Linked DNA regions of Homo sapiens: region 2 is linked to region 1. Evidence: fine-mapped expression QTL. Tissue or cell type: whole blood. Region 1 holds a variant in brackets; the other region holds the start of a gene. All regions are shown on one strand. Distances are between the middles of the regions.

Region 1 (5,380 bases):
CCCGGCTGCCCCCTCCTCCCCTTGACCCAGCACCTTTCTGCCCGACCCATCTAGTCCCTACATTCCTCACACTCGCCTACTGGAGGCTCAGGGCGGCACAACCACCAACTGTAGTGTGTGTGTTTCTCCCGAGTGTGTGTGTGTGTGTCTCCCAAGGGAACAGAGCACTGCTGAGTTCAGGTTGATTATTAGGTCGTGGACTGTCAGCAAAATGCAGTCACAAGAAGGCTGTGGGCTGTTTTGTGTTTTGCGGTGACATCATGTTGCTCATGTTTTATGTTTTTCAGAGTTCATTAGTTTCTATTTGTTCTCAGTTAATATCCACCTCAATAGATTGCATAAGTAGAATACCCCCAAACTGAAAGTCACCTACATAAAGTGTAGTGAAAAATATGTCACCCACTTAAACTATAGCTTAAACTATAGTTGAAGTTGTGTACACACTAGTTTTGTGTAGCCAACACTAGGTAATGGGTAAAGGCACAGGATCCTGGGGCTCTACTGCCTGGTTCAATTTCCAACTTTGCCATTTGCTGACTGTGAAATACTAGACAACTTTAAGCCTCAGTTTCTTTCTTTTTTTTAAACTTAATCCCAAATGTGATAGTAAGTCTCAGTTTCTTGATCTGAAAAACAGAAATTATTCAATGAGAGTCTGTGAAAACATTAAAGTTTTTAAAGCCACTGCCTGGCTCAGGAAAGTCCTCAGCTTTAGCCGTTATTAGCTATGATAATTATTGTGTTGGCTACACGTGCATTAATGAGGTAGGAAAATGCTCAAGGATAACAACCAAGTATCCAGATTATCTCATGAGACCGAGAGAGATGCATATGTGTGCATGCTCATGTTTCAGCTCAGAGCGCTTTGTCTAGAAGGCTCTTGAACTCAGAGGCCCAGGCACTATCAACTTGACTTTGCAGTGGAGGCATCACTTTTGTTGATCAATGAAATTGACATAATGCTCATTTTTTTTTTAGCACCGACCATGTGCCGAGAGCTAACTGTGTCAAGAAGAGCATGCTTCAGTTGGCTGGAGTGAGCAATTCAACTTGTGGAGGAGTGAGAAATGTTAGTGTTGAGACAAGAAACGTAAAACCCCAGGGTAAGGTAGGAATCAGTGAAAGGCAGAGGAACTGCCGTCCAGTAATGAGTTAGGCTTTGCTGGCTTCTGGCCCTACAGATGACTCTTTGGAGAGGAAAAAATTAAGCTAGGCCCGAGGGCACAGATCCTAAGGGAATGCTGGCAGCCTAGGCTGTCTATGGAAGAGAAGCAGAGGGTGGCACCTGGTTGAAAGAGGGGGTTGGGGGACAGAGCTTGAGGCTGTGTTTACAGATGGAGTCCTCTGATTCCTGTGACTGGGGAAGGAGATCGTGCTGGATCAGGGCACCTCAAATCAGAACTCTTCCCACCCACACCCCTTCTTTTCAGGGCGTCTTTCATTGCAAACAGTAGATAAACTAGTTGGAAAACTCAGCAGATTCTCACGGTGGTGCCTAGCAGGCCAGGCCTAGCTGCCGTTTAAGCTGTGACTGAGGGTGATGCCACTGGCCTGTAAACACACATTGGACAATCTTTACGTCCGTGGACACGCCATGCCCCACAGAGACAGCTGTGCATGGTTCTTTAGGTTTGGGGTGCTGTGCTGGCAGTTGCCTGATAAATGTGTAGGATTAAAATGGGATGCCCTGGAGCTTAGCTAACCTTTATCCCCCCTCCCCCCTCTAAAATGAAGGGGCTGCTAGTTTTGTTTGCTTTATGAAAGATGGATCTGTTATTGTTTTTAGAACCTTTGGAGAAAGATTTGTTGGGAGGAAGCGATCCTGAACCCCCAGAGATTTTCTCATTTACTGGTGCACCAGCTTTCGAGTCCTAGGTCTTCATCCTGGCTCAGCCACCCTCCAGCTGTGTGACCTTTGAGAAGTTGCTTGACTACACTGAGTCTCATTGTCACCTATGAGTGGAGGTTGCTACATTGCTACTGTGTGGAGCACCTACCCCCAGCCACTCTTACAGGGTGATGGTGACGATTAAATGCAATAATAAGGCTGAAGGAGGAGGATCGCTTGAAGCCAGGAGTTTGAGACTAGCCTGGGCAACAAAGCCAGACCACATTTCTATGAAAATGTTTTTTTAAAAAATTAGCTGGACTTGGTGGCTTGGGCCTACAGTCCAGCTACTCGAGAGGCTGAGGTGAGACCACTTGAGCCCAGGAGCTTGAGGCTGCAGTGAGCTGTGATTGCACCACTGCACTCCCGCCCAGGAAACAGAGAGAGACCCTATCTCAAATAAATGAATAAGTAAATAAATAAAATAATAAAATAATGCATGCAATTAGTACACTAGTACATGATCAGGCACATGATAACTGCTCGATAAATGGTAGCCTCAGTAAACTTTATAATGTTTTAAAGGAGAATGTCCTTTGGACTCAGCCTTTCAAATGACAGAGCATTTGAAAAGACTGATTTGTATGATGGCTATTTCCTACAGATACAAGACTGTACCTCCAGGGACTCAAGGCATTGGCTCA[G/A]TGGGGCACCTTGTTCTGTTTACTCTTGTTTTGGTCAGCACCGATTGCCCTAGGGCTAAGCAGGGCTGCCACCACAGACTCAGTTGCCAAGAGTATCCCCCTCCCCAAGCTAGCCATGGGAAAGCCACTCGCATTGTAAGACTACAGGAAATCAAAGGGAATAAAAAGCACAATTTAGTCACCTACTCTCCAGTTGATGGGCAATAGGTTTTTGCTATTTTGAACAGAGCTGTTAGGAACATTCCTTGTCCACATCCCCTGTTTTATATAGGCAAGAATTTCTCTTCCACGTAGAGTAGAATTACTGGGCTAGGAGGAGTGTGAATATTGAACCTTATGAGATGGAGCCAAACTGTTTTCCAAAGTGGTCATACCAGTGTATACTCCCAGCAGCAGTTCTTAAGAGATCTCAGGATGTCTATCTTCTGGTGATTTCACAAGCAGTCAAAAAGAATGAACGCCAGCAATAAACAACAATAAGAACTTTAGCAATATAATATTGTGAGAAAAACAAATTCCAGAAGGATGCATACAGAATACTTTATATAACATGGAAAAGAAAATGTATAGACCCAGCATGGTGGCTCATGCCTGTAATCCTGGCACTTTGGGAGGCCAAGGCAGGAGGATTGCTTGAGGCCAGGAGTTCAAGACCAGCCTGGGCAACATAGCAAAACCCTTTCTCTACAAAAACTAGAAAAATTAGCCAGGTGTGGTGGTGCAGGCATGTAGTCCTAGCTACTCATGAGGCTGAGACGGGAGGATCTCTTGAGTTTAGGTGTTCAAGGTTACAGTGAGCCCATGATTGCACCACTGCACTCCAGCCTGGGCAACAGAATGAGACCCTGTTTGCAAAAGAGAAAAACAAGTAAATAAGTAAAATTTAAAAACAAAATGTGGGCTGGGCACGGATTCTCATGCCTGTAACCCCAGCACTTTGCGGGGCCGAAGTGGGTACCTTATGAGGTCAGGAGTTCAATACCAGCCTGATCAACATGGTGAAACCATGTCTCTACTAAAAATAGAAAAATTACCCAGGGTGGTGGTACGCGCCTGTAATCCCAGCTACTCAGGAGGCTGAGGCAGGAGAATCACTTGAACCTGGGAGGCAGAGGTTGCAGTGAGCCAGGATTGTGCCATTGCACTCCAGCCTGGGTGACAAAGCAAGATTCCATCTCAAAAAAAAAAATTATTTTTTTAAAAAGATAACATTGACAAACAAAAGGAAACATGACAACTGATACCACAAAAACTCAAAGGATCACTAGTGGCTATTATCAGCAACTATATGCAAACAAATGGGAAAACCTACTAAAAATGGATAAATTTCCAGACACATCCAGACTACCAAGACTGAACCGGGATGAAATCCAAAGCCAGAACAGACCAACAACAAATAATGGGATCGAAGCAGTAATGAAAAGTCTCCCAGCAAAGAAAAGCCTGGGACCTGATGATTCACTGCTGAATTCTAGCAAACATTTAAAGAAGAACTAATACCAACCTTACCCAAACGATTCCAAAAATAGAGAAGGAGGGAATACTTCCAAACTCATTCTACAAGGCTAGTATTACCCTGATACCAAAACTAAAGATACATCCAAAAAAGAAAACTACAGGCCAGGATCACTGATGAATATTGATGCAAAAATCCTCAACAAAATATTAGCTAATTGAATTCAACAACACATTAAAGTTGGGGTGCAGTGTCCCAGGTTCACTCAACCCTTCCCGTTTTCTTGTCTGTGTGTGTCTACTTTGCTCTGTTCCCTGGTGGCAGCGGCGGTGGCAATGTTGGTGCATGGGCCTCCTAGGACAAGGGGAAAGTGAGTATGCCCTTTTCTTGCTTCCTGCCAGGCATCTGCAGCCTGGCGCAAGCTCTGGCCAGGTCTTCAAGCAAGGTACCTGGAGATGTTCTTTTCCAATTTCTGGATTGGTAACTTGAGGCAAATTCTGGGCACTAGAGTCAGGACTAAGATGAGACTTGAATCAGGGGAGTCTGGGGTCCTGAGAGGCAGAGGCCTGAAACCATCTAGAGCATGTGGGGACCTGGGTGTGTGTTCAGGCCAGTTGCCTTTCTCTGTGCTTCAATGTTCCAGGTACCCTTGGAGGGACTGAGATCCTAGGGATTGCTGGAGCCTGGCTGCATGGCCTGGCCACCCTGATGCGCTTGCATTCTCCGTGACAGGACAGCAAGGCTGAGGAGAATGGCTCCCACAGCTTCATGCACTCCATGGACCCACAGCTGGAGCGGCAAATGGAAACCACCCAGAACCTGGTGGACTCCTACATGGCCATTGTCAACAAGACCGTGTGGAACCTCATGGTTGGTGCGAAGCCCAAGACCATCATGCACATCATGATCTACAATGTGCATGCACCGCCTCATGGGGGTAGGCGGCTCCTGTGGCACTGGGGATGCAGGTGGCCATGTTGGCCTGGGGGAGATGCTGACCAGCCCTATGGGACCAGGTCCAGGGAGGGAGGCATGGTCCAGACCAGAGCTGTCTCATAGAAATATAACATGGGACTGAGGACAGTGGTCCATGCCTGTAATCCCAGCACTTTGGGAGGCCAAGGCGGGAGGATAGCTTGAGCCCAGGAGTTCGAGACCAGCCTGGGCAACATAGTGAGACCTGGCCTCTACACAAAAATTTTAAAAATAGCTGGGCTTGGTGGTGGCACGTGCCTATAGTCCTAGCTACTCGACAGGCTGACATTAGAGGATCACTTTGAGCCCAAGAGGTTGAGGATGCAGTGAGCGGTGATCTCGCCCTCTATACTCCAGCCTAGCGACAGAGTGAGATCCTATCTCCAAAAAAAATTTGAAAAACCTGAGTAGACAGGT
Region 2 (5,380 bases), 25 kb before region 1:
CCCTTACTGCCTTCTCAGTTCTACAGATGGTCCCAAGCTTACCATGGTTTGAATTACGATTTTGTTGTTGTTGTTGTTTTTTGGTTTGTTGTTGTTGTTGCTGTTGTTTTGAGATGGAGTCTTGCTTTGTCGCCCAGGCTGGAGTGCAGGGGCACGAAATCAGCTCACTGCAGCCTCTGTCTCCTAGGTTCAAGCGATTTTCCTGCCTCGGCCACCCGAGTAGCTGGGATTACAGGCACGCACCACCCTGCCAGACTAATTTTTGTATTTGTAGTAGAGATGGGGTTTCGCCATGTTGGCCAGGCTGGTCTCGAACTCCTGACCTCAAATGATTTACCTGCCTTGGCCTCCCAAAATGCTGGGATTACAGGCGTGAGTCACCGTATCCAGCCGCAATTTTTCAACTTTAGTGATGTGAAAGTCATATGCATTCAGTAGAAACTGTACTTTGAGTATCCATACAACCATTGTGTTTTTCACTCAGTACAGTATTCAATAAATTACATGAGATATTCAACACTTCATAATAAAATAGGCTTTATGTTAGAGGATTTTGCCCAACTGTAAGCTAATCTAAGTGTTCTGAGCACTTTTAATGTAGGCTAGGCTAAACTACGATGATCACTAGCTTACGTGTATTAAATACATTTTTAACTCACATTGGTTTTATTGGGACATAACCCAACTGTAAGACTAAGAGCATGTGTACTTCCCACCTCCAAAAGGCTCCTCTCTGCCTATCTAACTTCTCCTTAGCTCTAAAGGTCCACCTCAAAGCCTGCCTCCTCTACCTATTTTACCCGCTGGCATCTCCCTTTTTTTTTTTTTTTTCCTTTGAGACAGCCCCACGCCCAGCCCCCATGACACCTCCCTTTTCTACTGTTTACAGAACGTGTACAGAGTCACACATTACAGCACTTACTTGTATACCATCGTACTCTGTTCTCTAGTTGTTTGTCCTGAGTCTGCCTGAATTCCTCAACCAGACTAACTTCTTTGGGCCTAGGTATTCCTTCTTCACTCCTACCAAATGTTGATGCTAGATAAATACTTACTGATTGTTTTAATGCTTTATATACAAAAGCAAAGTAGCTAGTTTCTCGAATACAAAAAAAAAAAAAAGACCGGGGGCGGTGGCTCACGCCTGTAATCCCAGCACTTTGGGAAGCCAAGGTGGGCGGATCATGAGGTCAGGAGATCGAGATCCTCCTGGCTAACACGGTGAAACCCCATCTCTACTAAAAAAAAAAAAAAAAAAAAAAAAAAATTAGCCGGGCTTGGTGGCATGCACCTGTAGTCCCAGCTACTCAGGAGGCTGAGGCAGGAGAATCGCTTGAACCTGGGAGGTGGAGGCTGCAGTAACCGAGATCATGCCATTGCACTCTAGCCTGGGCAACAAGAGCAAACCTCCGCCTTCAAAAAACAAAAAAAAACCAACCAAACAAAAAAAACCAACTCTAGTACTCTAGTAGCACAACTTAAATAGATTAAATACACGTGTTTATTAAACATGGGCAGCTCATTTCTCAAGACATCTCATATTTAAGGCTTGAAAAGTTTTAAATACACTAATGTGACCCAAATAATAATTTAATCAGTAATTTTTATTGGAAATCCTAGGTAATTAACTATATACACATATTTAAAATTACAGGTAGTATTTTATATTGTTTCCACAGCAACAACTTACCTCGCTGTCAGCCTCGCTTTCCTTCATTTTCTTCTTTTTCATGTCCTTGTCTTGGCTTTGACTAGGAGGAGGCTGAAAGATAAATTATAAATGACTCACATCAATGGCAAGAAAAAGCAACACATTTTAAGAAGAGAGTCATGCCAGCAGGCTGCAAGTGCCCCGTGTTTAGAGGCTCATAGCTGGGCTCTCCTGACCACCAGCTACAGCTCTCAGTGGGCAAGTCATTCTCCAGGGTTCAGTCCTTCCTGTCACACTGTTGCTAAGCACATTTAATATATTGTGCTCTTGAAAACCTTTTGTCCTGAACTTTAAACAAATAATGTGGCTGGAAAATGTGTGGTTGCTGCCCGCCACATCAAATGCACTATTTCCTGAAGATGTTGCTAGTTCACCGCAGCTGTCCTTCCTAAAGGACTGCAGAACATCTCAGCCTGAGAAGCTTCAGGACTCAGAAAGTATGATGTTAAAAGAAGATAATTTATCCTTTCTACAAATCATAAAATACTGTATTAAATAAAAATGTTAAATATACAGCTATCCTCTCAAGATGAACCACCAAAACAAGAGCACAAAAAGCGAAAACTTCTCGTCCAAAAAAAACCCAACAACAAAAAAGAACCAGAGGGAATGAGAGTTTACATACGCAGCTGTTAGTCTTTCTGACCAAGGAAAGAATGAGTTTTAAACACTCCAGCATTTTTTCAAACAAATGAAAACACTATTTCTGCTACTGAAAAAGATGCGTGGCAGGCTCTTTAATGGACGAATTGAGAAATCAACAGCATTTGGTTAAGTCTGGCGACTGCTGGAAATCCGGCGGCTCCCCAGGCCACACGGGACCACCGAGCAGGGCAGGGCGGGCCAGCCGCAGGGCACTGGGAGGGCACTCCCCCGGGGCGCCCCCGCACCTGCCCCCGCAGTTGAAAACCTTTCGGTGCGCACCGTCTCGGCCCGCCCCGCCCGCGTCCTCTCCAGTGTCCCCACCGCCCGGTTACCTGTGCGCCGGCCTCCTGCGCCGCCTCTAGCTCCGCGCTCTCCAGCGTGGCCTGGCGGCTCCGCTCCTCGGCGAGGCACAGCCGCAGGCTGCACAGGCGGTGGCGCAGGTCGCAGTTCTCGGCCCGGAGCTGCGCCACCTCCCGCGTGAGGCACGGCCCCTCCGCCTGGCAGCTGTAGGGCGCGTTCAGCTGCTCGTCCCTCAGGCGCTCGACCTCCGACCACAGCCAGCGGATGTCCTCCTCCTGCCGCTCCAGGCGCGACGCCACGGCCTCCGCCGCCAGGGCCTCGGCCGCCATCGCGGCCTCCCTCAGGCACCGACGCCGAGCGGGGTGCCCGCGACTGCGGCGAGGGCGACGCGGACACTCAGCGCACGGCAGAAGACAGGGCTCCCGGGAGGGGCGGGGCGATGGGGCGGGGACGGAGCCATGGGGCCTCGTTGGAGCCGAGGCCTACACGTTGCAGGGGCGGGGCGCTGGGCGGGGAGGGGCGGGGCCTAGGCCAGATACCCTGCAGGGGCGGGGCGGGGCGGGGCGGGGCCTGAGGCCAGATACCCTGCAGGGGCGGGGCGGGGCGGGGCCTGAGGCCAGGCCCACCTTAGGGTCACGGGCAGTGGGGAAATGGGGTCTGAAGGGCCTCCCCTGCCTTTCGAGGCCTGTCTAGAGGCTATTGGCAGTAGTTTTTAGTCCGTTGAAACGAAAATCTTCCAAAACCTTGCAAAAAGGCCATCGTCTGCGTTCTCCAAAAAGGCTTCACCCTTTCTTCCTCTTGAATTCTGGCAGTCACCATTCTTTTGCCTTGCAAACAGGTTCTAAAAAGTGGCCATTCATTATAAATGGACTTTCTGGCCTTTCGTGCCAAACTTGCCCAAGTACTGAGGCCTCTGGGCCAGGGCATATAGAAAATCGCTGTGAAATCTAAATCCGACCAGCACGAAATTACTGGCTCCTTGAGTCTAGGGCAAATGCCACATATATCTTTGTATCCCTCTTAACCATGAGCGTGAAACTTCCTGGAGCAGGAACAGAAATTGATTTTTATCACTATTCTTAGGGCTTAGGATGTGACAAACACTGTTCTAAACTCTGTAACAGTAGTAACTCCTTTAATCTTCATAACAGGAGATACTGTTATATCCGCTTATAGCTGGAGAAATTGAAGCACAGTGAGACTGTGTTACTTGACTAAGGTCACACAGCCACTACATGACAAAGGGGGAATCAAACTCAGATAGTCTGATGCCAGTTTCTACACACTTAACACTAGTACTTTTCAACTTTGGCAGAATTTAATTGAGCATGTCATATAATGTGATACAGGTAATAATGCCCTTATAAGAGTCCTGAAGTGGAAGAGCTTAGCTTGGACTGGTGTGGTTTGAGAAAGGGAGAAAATTTTGAGAAAGGGGAAAAGGTTTATTTTGCTCTGGAAAATAAAGGTTGGGAGATGTTAGCAAGGAGGAAAAGCAGGTAAATTCCACTCCAGGAGCAGAATCAGTGCAGGAGAAGGAGCGGAGGGGGACAAGCTCATTGGATTAAGCTAAGTGGAATCCCAAACAGCACCCAGGAGGAGATTCCATGAAGTATGTTGCTAACCAATATCACTGTATCTTTTTTAGTCCTTCCTCAGGAAGCCTCTGGATACAGTTACATAGGACCCACTGACTCCTCATTATTCATCATTTCTCAATCCACTGCCATGGAGTTTCTGCTTCTGCCATTCTGTCATGACCAACACATCACTGAATGTCATGGACCCACTTAAGCCACCCCAGAATTTCCTCGGGACCCTCTGGAATTTGTCTCTCTTGGGTCTCCATTCCCAATACCTAGGCAACCACCAGTCTGCTTCCTGTCACTATAGGTTAGTTTGCATTTTCTTGATTTTTCTACACATGGAACCACACCGTATGTCCTCCTTTTGTTTAGCTACTTTCAGTCGGCACAATAATTTTGATATTTACCTATGTTTGTGTGTATCTATTGTTCTTTTTTTCTGAGTAGTATTCCATTGTATGGATATACCATAATTTGTTTATTCATTTGTTGATGGAAAATTTGGGTTATTTCCAGGTTTTAGCTAGGATCACACAATACCCAGTGAGCCCATTGGGTTTCCAAACTCACACTGTAGTTATTTCGTCAGTTCCAGAATGCAGAGTTTGAATAGATATACTCCAAACTGGCAGAATCCCTACAGTGTTTCCCTGACCCTCGGACATAAGGCTATTATTCTGGTAGGAAAGGCCAAGCAGAAACCACTAGAACTTTATCAACATACAAAAATAATAAATCAAAAGTAATACTGCATTCCTGAAGGAATTGCACAGATTACTGTTGCCTTCAAGAACTTGAAAGATGCAGGGGTGGAGATTCTCATCACACCCCATTTACCTTACCTTACCATCCCATTTACATTTAGCCTATGTAGAAGACAAATGGATGTTAGAGAATTATAGTAGATTAATATAAATTTAATTAGATGGTGATTCCAGTTGCAGCTGCTCTTCCAGATATGATTTCATTGTTGGAGTAAATCAGCATAACCCCTAGCACCTGATATGCACCTATTGAGCTGGCTAATACTTCTTTCTTTATATCTATTAGTTAAGGGCTATCGAGCACCATTTTATTTCAGCTGACAAGGCTGGCAATACACCTTCACAGGGTATCACCACAAGACAATATAAACTCT

Evidence for each region.
Region 2: it holds the start of TARS3, and the variant in region 1 is fine-mapped to the expression of TARS3 in whole blood (TOPMed, PIP above 0.99).

The regions. Positions count from the first base shown.
Region 1 is chr15:101,746,821-101,752,200 of GRCh38, forward strand. No RefSeq gene overlaps it. Among named protein-coding and RNA genes, the nearest start is that of TARS3, 25 kb to the left of the region's middle. The variant G/A (reference allele first, on the strand shown) is at 2,533.
Region 2 is chr15:101,721,403-101,726,782 of GRCh38, forward strand. It overlaps TARS3 (threonyl-tRNA synthetase 3), which reads right to left and starts at 3,071. Exons shown (of 19, transcript NM_152334.3): 1 at 2,689-3,071; 2 at 1,691-1,762. The coding sequence starts at 2,985. RefSeq lists a silencer at 2,467-3,356.